Regions from separate parts of the Homo sapiens genome. Here region 2 is linked to region 1. The links come from fine-mapping of genetic effects on gene expression. A gene starts in region 1. The other region holds a variant in brackets. All regions are shown on one strand. Distances are between the middles of the regions. Region 1 holds the start of AP1M2 (adaptor related protein complex 1 subunit mu 2). Region 2 has its middle 13 kb from the start of SLC44A2.

What was found. PIP is the estimated chance that this variant, and not a neighbour inherited with it, causes the effect.
Region 2: its variant is the best candidate, but not a certain one, in a credible set for the expression of AP1M2 in whole blood (TOPMed, PIP 0.74).

The regions. Positions count from the first base shown.
Region 1 is chr19:10,584,754-10,590,128 of GRCh38, reverse strand. It overlaps AP1M2 (adaptor related protein complex 1 subunit mu 2), which reads left to right and starts at 2,817. Exons shown (of 12, transcript NM_005498.5): 1 at 2,817-2,939. The coding sequence starts at 2,898.
Region 2 is chr19:10,609,638-10,615,012 of GRCh38, reverse strand. It overlaps a transcript of SLC44A2 not described here. Among named protein-coding and RNA genes, the nearest start is that of SLC44A2, 13 kb to the left of the region's middle. The variant C/T (reference allele first, on the strand shown) is at 2,735.

The sequences.
Region 1 (5,375 bases):
CGGTGGCTTACACCTGTAGTCCCAGCACTTTGGGAGGCCGAAGCGGGCGGATCACGAGGTCAGGAGATCCAGACCATCCTGGCTAACATGGTGAAACCCTGTCTTTACTAAAAGTACAAAAAGTTAGCCAGGCGTGTTGGCAGGCGCCTGTAGTCCCAGCCACTCGGGAGGCTGAGGCAGGAGAATGGTGTGAACCTGGGAGGCGGAGCTTGCAGTGAGTTGAGATCGCGCCATTGCACTCCAGCCTGGGTAACAGAGCGAGACTCCATCTCAAAGAAAAAAAAAAATTAGCTAGGTGGGCCTGGCCTGGCGCGGTGGCTCACACCTGTCATCCCAGCATTTTGGGAGGCTGAGGCGGGTGGATCACGAGGTCAGGAGTTCAAGACCAGCCTGGCCAAGATGGTGAAACCCCCGTCTCTACTAAAAATACAAAAAAAAAATTAGCCGGGCGTGGTGGCAGGCGCCTGTAATCCCAGCTACTTGGGAGTCTGAGGCAGAGAATTGCTTGAAGCTGGGAGGCAGAGGTTGCAGTGAGCAGAGATTGCGCCACTGCACTCCATCCTGGGCGACAAAGCCAGACTCTGTCTCAAAAAAAAAAAAAAAAATCAGCTAGGTGTGGGCCAGGCGCAGTGGCTCACGCCTGTAATCCCAGCATTTTGGGAGGCCAAGGCAGATGGATCACGAGGTCAGGAGTTCGAGACCAGCCTGGCCAACATGGTGAAACCCCATCTCTACTAAAGATACAAAAAATTAGCTGGGCTTGGTGGTGCACGCCTGTAATCCCAGTTACTTGGGAGGCTGAGGCAGCAGAATCGCTTGAGCCTGGGAGGCAGAGGTTGCAGTGAGCCGAGATTGTGCCATTGCACTCCAGCCTGGGCAACAGGACGAGACTCCAAATTAAAAAAAAAAAAAAAAATTAGCTAGTTGTGGCCAGGCGCAGTGGCTCACATCTGTCATCCTAGCAATTTGGGAGGCCAAGGCGGGTGGATCACCTGAGGTCGTGAGTTCAAGACCAGCCTGACCAACATGGAGAAACCCTGTCTCTACTAAAAATACAAAAAAAGTAGCCGGGCATGGTGGCGCATGCCTGTAATCTCAGCTACTCGGGAGGCTGAGGCAGGAGAATTGCTTGAACCTAGGAGGCATAGGTTTCAGCGAGCCGAGATCACATCACTGCACTCTAGCCTGGTAAACTAGAGCAAAATTCTGTCTCAAAAAAAATTAGCTGGGTGTGGCGGTTTGTGCCTGTAGTTCCAGTTACTAGGGAGGCTGAGGCAGGAGGATGGCTTGAGCCCAGGAAGTTGAGGCTGTAGTGAGCCATGATTGCATCACTGCAGTCCAGTCTAGGGTACAGAGTGAGACCCTGTCTCTACAAAAAAAGTTTTTTGGCTGGGTGCGGTGGCTCACGCCTGTAATCTCAGCCCTTTGGGACGCTGAGGCGGGTGGATCACCTGAGGTCGGGAGTTCGAGACCAGCCTGGCCAACATGGTGAAACCCCATCTCTATTAAAAATACAAAATTAGCCAGGCGTGATGGCGCATACCTGTAATCCCAGCTACTTGGGAGGCTGAGGCAGCAGAATCCCTTGAACCCGGGAAGCGGAGGTTGTAGTGAGTAGAGATCATGCCACTGCACTCCAGCCTGGAGTCTAAAAAAAAAAAAAAATTAGCTGGGCATGGTGGCGCTTGCCTGTAATCCCAGCTACTAGGGGTGCTGAGGCAGGAGGATTGCTTGAACCTGGGAGGTGGAGGTTGCAGTGAGCCAAAATCATTCCACTGCACTCCAGCATGGGCAACAGAGTGAGACTCCATTTCAAAAAACAAAAAAAAATAAATTTTTTATTTGAAATGAATAAGAGTAAATTTGTAAGAATAATAAAAGCAAGTACATTTGTCCTGCTCGGAATTATATCCACAGTTCCTGTTACTGAGTGAATGAATATTTCAAATTCAGTCAGTAAAATTCACCAGTGAAAATTATTATATGAATGAGTGAATGAATGAATTGGGCAAATTTTGAGCACCCAGTGCTGAGCACTAGGGACATAAACATGAACAAGACAAAGTCCCTGCTGTATGGGGGCTGACGTGTGTGGGTGAGACAGAGGAGAAAGAAGGTGAATGGATGGATGAATCAATGAGAGGATGAATGAATGGATAGATGGGTGGATGAATGGATAGATGAATAAATTAATGAATGCAAGAATGGATGGATGGATGGATTGATGAATGGATAGATGAATAAATTAATGATGCAAGAATGGATGAACGGATGGATGGATGGATGGATAGATGAATAAATTGATGAATGTTAGAATGGATGAATGGATGGATGAATGGAAAGATGAATAAATGAATGAATGCAAGAAGGGATGAATGAATGGATGAATAAATGGATGGATGAATGGATAATGGATAGACGAACAAATAAATGAATGCAAAAATGGATGAAGAAATGGATGACGAATGGAAGGATGGATCAATGAATCGATGGAAGATGGATTAATGAATGGCTAAATGAGTGGATGCGTGGATGGATTAATGAATGCAAGAATGAATGGATGGATGGACGAATGGATGGATAGATGAATGAAAGGAAGGATGAATGAATGGATGGAAGGATGGTTGATTGGTTTGGGGTCTCCACCCGTCATTACTCCTGGGTGGCTAGGGAAAGTGAAGGGGGGCAGCAGACCCATCTGAAGTCGCAGTACCTCTCCCGGCCCCGCAGCCATCTTCAAGTTGGCCGACAGCGCTGCTCACCTGGCCGCCTCCCCTTTAAGACGCACACACCTGGGCTCTCACCTGGGCGCAGGCGCTTCCGCAGGAAGAAGGAAGCGGCGCCGCCATCGCCTCCCGGCGCTCCCTCCCCGACTCCTAAGTCCTTCGGCCGCCACCATGTCCGCCTCGGCTGTCTTCATTCTGGACGTTAAGGGCAAGGTGAGGCTGGGCATGAGGAGTTGGGAGACGGACAGGTGAGGTCTCGCTCCCAGGGATTCAGGGGCGACCCCTCCGCGCGGGCCAGGAAGAGGTCTGGGAACACCCCCTCCCCCTGCAATCCCTGGGAATCCCACCTCCAGCATCCACTCGCCTTGTGCCTGAGGCCAAGGGGTTCGCCTCCTAGGGCCTCAGTTTCTCTGTATGTAAAAATGGGAGCAACAGAGGTCCCCACCCAATGAGAATTAATACAACTCGCTGCGTGTAAACTACTTAGCATAGTGGCCTTTCTGGAAATATTAGGGACTCAGCAAATTGAAATTATCTCCATCACTGTCGGCATCCACAGTGTTAATACCTGGGGAAGGCAACTGGAACAGGGGCCTCTAACTCCCCCCATCTGTGGCTGCCTTGCCTCTTCCTGAAGTCCTTTTATTCCTCTTGTCTTTTTTTATTTTGGAGACAGGGTCTCTTGCTGTCTCCCAGGCTTGAGTGCAGTGGTGCGATCATAGCTCACTGCAGCCTGGAATTCCTGGGCTCAAGCGATCCTCCTGCCTCAGTCTCCGGAGTAGCTGTGACTACACAGGTGCAGGCCACCATGCCTGGCTAATTCTTGACATTTTTTTGTAGAGGGATCCCGCTATGTTGCCAAAGCTGCTCTCAAACTCCTGAATATCTGGGGCTGCGGGCTGACCCCTCCATGCCCGGCTATTTTTAATTTTTTTTTTTTTTTTTTTTTAAATAGAGTCTTGCTCTGTCACCCAGGCTGGAGTGCAGTGGCTCCATCTTGGCTCACTGCAACCTCCACCTCCCGGGTTGAAGCAATTCTCCTGCCTCAGCCTCCCGAGTAGCTGGGACTACAGGTGCATGCCACCATGCCTGGCTAATTTTTGTATTTTTTTTTTTTTTCAAGACAGAGTCTCGCCTTGTCACCCAGGCTGGAGTGCAATGGCATGATCTTGGCTCACTGCAACCTCCACCTCCCAGGTTCAAGTGATTCTCCTTCCTCAGCCTCCTGAGTAGCTGGGATTACAGGCGCGCACCATCACGCCCGGCTAATTTTTTGTATCTTTAGTAGAGATGGGGTTTCACCATGTTGGGCAGGATGGTCTCAATCTCTTGACCTCGTGATCCGCCCACCTCGGCCTCCCAAAGTGCTGGGATTACAGACATGAGCCACTGCGCCCGGCCGCACCCGGCCTATTTTTTATTTTTATTTTTTTGTACAGATGGAGTCTTGCTATGTTGTCCAGGATGGTCTTGAACTCCTGGTCCCCAGCTATCCCCCTGCTTCAGCCTCCCAAAGTGTTCGGATGACAGGTGTGAGCCACTGCAGTCAGCCTGTCTTGTCATTTAATAGCCAAAATAAGAGTGGTGGTGAAAATAATATTCCCATTAATATTAATAGTGAGAGCTAAGATGTTTGAGAACCTGCCATGGGTCCTCCCTGTTCAGACACTGGACAAAACAACCTTAGGAAGTGGTTAACTAATTTTTTTTTTTTTTGGAGATGGAGTCTCGCTCTGTCACCAGGCTGGTGTGATCTCAGCTCACAGCAACCTTCACCTCCTGGGTTCAAGTGATTCTCATGCCTTAGCCTCCTGAGTAGCTGGGATTACGGTCATGCGCCAGCACACCAAGCTAATTTTTGTATTTTTAGTAGAGACGGGGTTTCATCATGTTGGCCTGGATGGTCTCGAACTCTTGACCTCATGATCCACCCGCCTTAGCCTCCCAAAGTGCTGGGATTAAAGGCGTGAGCCACCGTGTCCAGACAGAAGTGTTTACTATTATGGGTGTCTTCCTGACTACCAGGCACAATCATATGAACTGTCATCTTTCTTTCTTTCTTTCTTTCTTTCTTTCTTTCTTTCTTTCTTTCTTTCTTTCTTTCTTTCTTTCTTTCTTTTTTTCTTCTTTCTTTCTTTCCTTCTTTCCTTCTTTCCTTCTTTCTTTCTTTCTTTTCTTCTTTCTTTTTTTGACAGGGTCTCACTCTGTTGCTCGGGCTGGAGTGCAGTAGTATGACCACAGCTCACTGTAGTCTCGACCTCCTAGGCTCAATTGATTCTTCTGCCTTAGCCTCCAGAGTAGCTGTGACTACAGAGGTGCAGGCCACCATGCTCAGCTAATTCTTGAAATTTTTTGTAGAGGGATCCCGCTATGTTGCCAAAGCTGGTCTCAAACTCCTGGCCTCAAGGGATCCTCCTGCCTTGGTCTTCATGAGTGAGTCATTGCACCTGGCCTCTTCTTTGTTTTTTTTTTTTGTTGTTGTTGTTTTTTTAAATAATCCCACTTTGGTGCAAATGAAGTCTGGGGCAACAGCAGGGATTCTGGACCCAGGATGCCTTAGATCAATCCCCAGTTTCCATATGCTTCCAGTGGACATGGTTTCTAACCTCACTTCTCCTGTGTGAAATGGAGATGATGATAACATCTACC
Region 2 (5,375 bases), 25 kb before region 1:
ACATTTTCTTTTCTTTTCTTCTTCTTTTTTTTTTTTTTTTTTGAGACGGAGTCTCATTCTGTCACCCAGGCTGGAGTGCAGTGGCGCAATCTTGGCTCACTGTGACCTCTACCTCCCGGGTTCAAGAGATTCTCCTGCCTCAGCCTCCCAAGTACCTGGGATTACAGGCACGCACCACCATGTCCGGCTAATTTTTGTATTTTTAATAGAGACGTGGTTTCACCATGTTGGCCAGGTTGGTCTCAAACTCCTGACCTCGGGTGATCCGCCCGCCTCAGCCTCCCAAAGTGCTGGGATTATCGGCGTGAGCCACCGCGCCCAGCCACATTTTCTTTTCTTCAGCTTACTTTATTGTAAGAATACGATATATATAATACAGAGACACAATATGTGTATGTTGATATGTTGTCCGTAAGGCTAAGAGTCAACAGTAGGCTATCACTAATTAAGTTTTGGGGGACTTATATGCAGTTATATGCAGGCCGGGCATGGTGACTCATGCCTGCAATCCCAGCATTTTGGGAGGCTGAGGTGGGAGGATCTCTTGAGGCCAGGAGTTGGAGACCAGCCTGATCAACAGATCACAACCCTGTCTCTACAAAAACTTAAGGCATACACAGATTTCTAATTTCACAGGGGGTTGGTGCCCCTCACACCCATGTGGTTTGAGGGTCAAATGCATTATTTCCTTTCGTTGCTGTAACAAGACACCAATGCCTTGGTGGCTTAAAAAAACACAAATTTATGGACGGGTGCGGTGGCTCATGCCTGTAATCCCTGCACTTTGGGAGGCCGAGGCAGGTGGATCACCTGAGGTCAGGAGCTTCAGACCAGCGTGGCCAACGTGGTGAAACCCCATCTCTACTAAAAATACAAAAAATTAGCTGGGCGTGGTGGTGTGCACCTGTAATTCCAGCTACTCAGGAGGCTGAGGCAGTAGAATTGCTTGAAACCAGGAAGCAGAGGTTGCAGTGAGCCAAGATCGCATCACTGCACTCCAGCCTGGGCAACAAGAGCAAAACTCGTCTCAAAAATAATAATAATAATAATAAATAAAAACCACAAATTTATTATCTCACAGCTCAGGAGGACAGAAGCACAAAATGCATCTCACTGGGCTACAATCGATGTGTAGGCAGGGCTGTTTCTTTCGGAGATTTTAGGGGAAAATCTGTTTCCTTGTCTGTTTCACCTTCTAGAGGCCGCCCACATTCCTTGGCTCCTGGCCACTTCTTCCATTTTTAAAGACAGCAATCACATCAAACCCACCTCGCTTCCGTCGTTCCATGTCCTCCTCTGACTCTGCTACCACCCTCTTCCATTTTTCTTAAAGAGACGGGGTCTCACTATGTTGCCCAGGCTGGTCTCAAAGTCCTGGGTTCAAGCAGTCCTCCTGCCTTAGCCTCCCAAAGTGCTTGAACTACAGGCATGAGCCACTACACCCAGCCAAAGTCTTCAACTTGGCCAGGCGCAGTGGCTTACACCTGTAATCCCAGCACTTTGGGAAGTCAAGGCAGGCAGATTACTTGAGGTCAGGAGTTTGAGACCAGCCTGTCCAACGTGGTGAAACCCCATGTCTACTAAAAATACAAAAAATTAGCCGGGCATAGTGGTGGGCGCCTGTAGTCCCAGCTACTCGGGAGGCTGAGGCAGGAGAATCACTTGAACCCAGGAGGCAGAGGTTGTGGCAAGCCAAGATTGCGCCACTGCACTCTAGCCTGGGTGACAGAGCAAGACTCCATCTCAAAAAAAAAAAAGAAAGAAAATAAAAAGTAAAAAATAACTATATTATCTGGGTGTGGTGGTGCATGCCTGTGGTCCCAGCTACTCAGGAGGCTGAGGTGGGAGAATCGCTTGAGCCCGGGAGGCAGAGGCTGCAGTGAGCTGTGATCACGCCACTGCACTCCAGCCTGGATGACAGAAAACACTGTCTCTAAAAAACCAAAACCAAACAAATAAAAATAACAAAACAAAAACTTCTCCAATCCCCACTAACCATTAGTGTGATCCCATTTCACGACGGGCACACTGAGGTTGCTTGCTCGGGCCACACAGCTGGTGAGGAGCACAGCCAGGAGTCAAACCAACGCCCTGCTGGAGCCAACCCAGGCCTTTTCCTTGGCAGGTACTGGGAGAAGCAGAGATAACGTTGCGGCAATGGTGTGGAAGAAAAATTGGGAAAATTGAGCTGTTGGACAAGGCCAGGATTGGGAGAGGCAGCCTTCGGGTGCCAGCCTTGCTGGCTGTGACGGCTGACCCACCCAAGTGCAGTGGGCGTGGGCGATAAGAGAACTGCCACAGCCTGCCCAGTCACAGTGCTGGTGCCAGGACATCAAATGCCACCCAGCCCCCACAGCTTCCGGACACTGGCCAAGTCCCCAAGGGCTGCAGCGGCCCAAGGCCTCACCCGTACAGCCAGCCACTGGCCTCTGCCTTCCCAGAAGTCTGTGCCTGGGGAATGAGCATCGCCAGCTGCCCAGACACCTCTTTTGACAAAGGGTTTGAGGACAGCATCTGGGTGGGGAGGCTCAGAAGGGTTAAGGGCAAAAGATAGAGCGCCTACTGTATGCTGGACTATGTTAGGCACCAAACCAGAGATTTGCTTCTAGAAACATTTAACCTTTTTTTATTTTTTATTTTTTGAGACAGGGTCTCCTTTTTTGCCCAGGATGAAGTGCAGGGGCGCAATCATAGCTCACTGCAGCCTTGACCTCCTGGGCTCAAGTGATCCTCC[C/T]GCCTCAGACTCCCTAGTGGATGGGACCACAGGCATGCACCACCACGCCCCGCTAATTTTTAATTTTTTGTTTTGCAGAAACAGGGTCTCACTATGTTGCCCAGGCTGGTATAAAATTCCTGGGCTCAAGTGATCCTTCCGCCCTGGCATCCCAAAGTGCTGGGATTATAGGAGTGAGCCACCACACCCGGCTCAGCCTAAGAAGCTTTAAAAAGATCCAGATGCCACACACACACAGAAATTAATAGGTCACAATCTGGAAGGAGACTTCTTGGCTGAGCTACCTCTGAGGTGAAAACAGCTAGCCAAAGATTTGTAGAAGATTCTTTCACATGGAAAGCTAAAATCTTCCATGGACTTGAGGACTTACTTATAATTAGCTTTTAGTCCCCCTGCCAGAACAGAGGGAATTTATTAATTTTATTATGTAAGAGTTTATTTGTTTACTTGTATATTTGAGATGGGGTCTCATTCTGTTACCTAGGTTGGAGTGCAGTGGCACAATGTCGGCTCACTGCAACCTCTGCCTCCTAGGCTCAAGCAATCCTCCCACCTCACCCTCCAGAGTGGCTCGGACCACAGGCATAAGCCACCATGACCAGCTAATTTTTTTGCATATTTTTGGGAAGAAGGGGTTTTGCAATGTTGCCCAGGCTAGTCTCAAACTCCTGGACTCAAGCGATCCACCCACCTTGGCCTCACAAACAGCTGGGATTATAGGAGTGAACCACGATCCACCCACCTTGGCCTCACAAACAGCTGGGATTACAGGAGTGAACCACTGCACCGGGTCTCTTGTTTGTTTATTTATTTATTTATTATTTTTTGAAATAGTGTCTCACTCTCTTGCCCAGGCTGGAGTGCAGTGGCGCAATCTTGGCTAACTGCAACCTCTGCTGCCCAGGTTCAAGCAATTCTCCTGCCTCAGCCCCCTGAGTAGCTGAGATTACAGGTACCTGCCACCACGCCTGGCTAAATTTTGTAGTGTTAGCAGAGATGGGGTTTCACCATCTTGGTCAGGCTGGTCTCGAACTCCTGACCTCAAGTGACCTACCCGCCTGGGCCTCACAAAGTGCTGGGATTACAGGCGTGAGGCACTGCACGCAGCCTAAAATAATATTTTAAAATAATGCTCTCTAGCCCGGCACAGAGGCACATGCCTATAGTCCCCTACTTAGGAGGTTGAAGGGGAAGGATCGCTTCAGCCGGGGAATTCAACCAGCCTGGGGAACATCATAAGACTCCCTCTCAAAAAAAATTTTTTTTTAAATTAAAAATAAATAAATAAATATCATGTTCACCTTGGGGATCGATTGGGAAATGGCAAAAGAAAAGTCTTGGCGGGGCGCGGTGGCTCACAACTGTAATCCCAGCACTTTGGGAGGCCGAGGCGAGCGGATCACTTGAGGTCAGGAGTTCCAGACCAGCCTGGCCAACATGGTGAAACCCCGTCTCTACTAAAAATACAAAAATGAGCCAGGCATGGTGGCACATGCCTGTAATCCCAGCTACTCGGGAGGCTGAGGCCAGAGAATCACTTGAACCCGGGAGGCAAAGGTTGCAGTGAGCCAAGATCACGCCATTGCACTCCAGCCTGGGCAACAAGAGTGAAACTCCATCTCAAAAAAAAAAAAAAAAAAAAAAAAAGCCAGGCGCGGTGGCTCACGACTGTAATCCCAGCACTTTGGGAGGCCGAGGCGGGCAGATCACGAGGTCAGGAGATCAAGACCATCTGGCTAACACAGTGAAACCCCGTTTCTACTAAAAAAATACAAAAAAATCAGCCGGGCATGGTGGCGGGCGCCTGTAATCCCAGCTACTCGGGAGGCTGAGGCAGGAGAATGGCGTGAACCCGGGAGGCGGAGCTTGCAGTGAGCCGAGATCACGTCACTGCACTCCAGCCTGGGTGACTGAGTGAGACTCAGTCTCAAAAAAAAAAAAAAAAAAGGAAAAGAAAAGTCTCTAGGGAGAATTCTCTACCAGGGCTCTGCAAATGTTTTCTGTTAAGGACAAGATATTAAAGATTTTAAGCTTTGTGGTTCACATATCATCTGTCATATATATATATTTTTTTTTCTTTTTTCACAACCATTTAAAAATATAAGAGCCATTCTTAGCCCACTAGCCTTACAAAAACAGGCCACCACCCAACAATCTAAATATAAGTAACATTAGCCAGGCTCGGTGGCTCACGCCTGTAATCCCAGCACTTTGGGAGGCCAAAGTGGGAGAATCATTTGAGGTCACGAGTTTGAGACCAGCCTGGTCAACATAGTGAAACCCTGTCTCTACTAAAAATACAAAAATTAGCCGGGCATGGTTGTGCATGCCTATAATCCCAGCTATTCGGGAGGCTGAGGCAGGAGAATAACTTGAACCCAGGAGGCAGAGGCTGCAGTCAGCCGAGATTGTGCCCTGCCCTTCAGCCTGGGCAACAGAGACAGATTCTGTCTCAAAAAATAAATAAATAAATAAGAGTAACATCATAGATCTGTACATTTAAAAAGAGTTATGGGCTGGGCATGGTGGCTTACACCTGTAATCTCAGTACCTTGAGAGGCTGAGGTGGGAGGATCACTTGAGCCCAGGAGTTCAAGACCAGCCTGGACAACATAGCAAGACTCTATCTCTACAAAAAAAC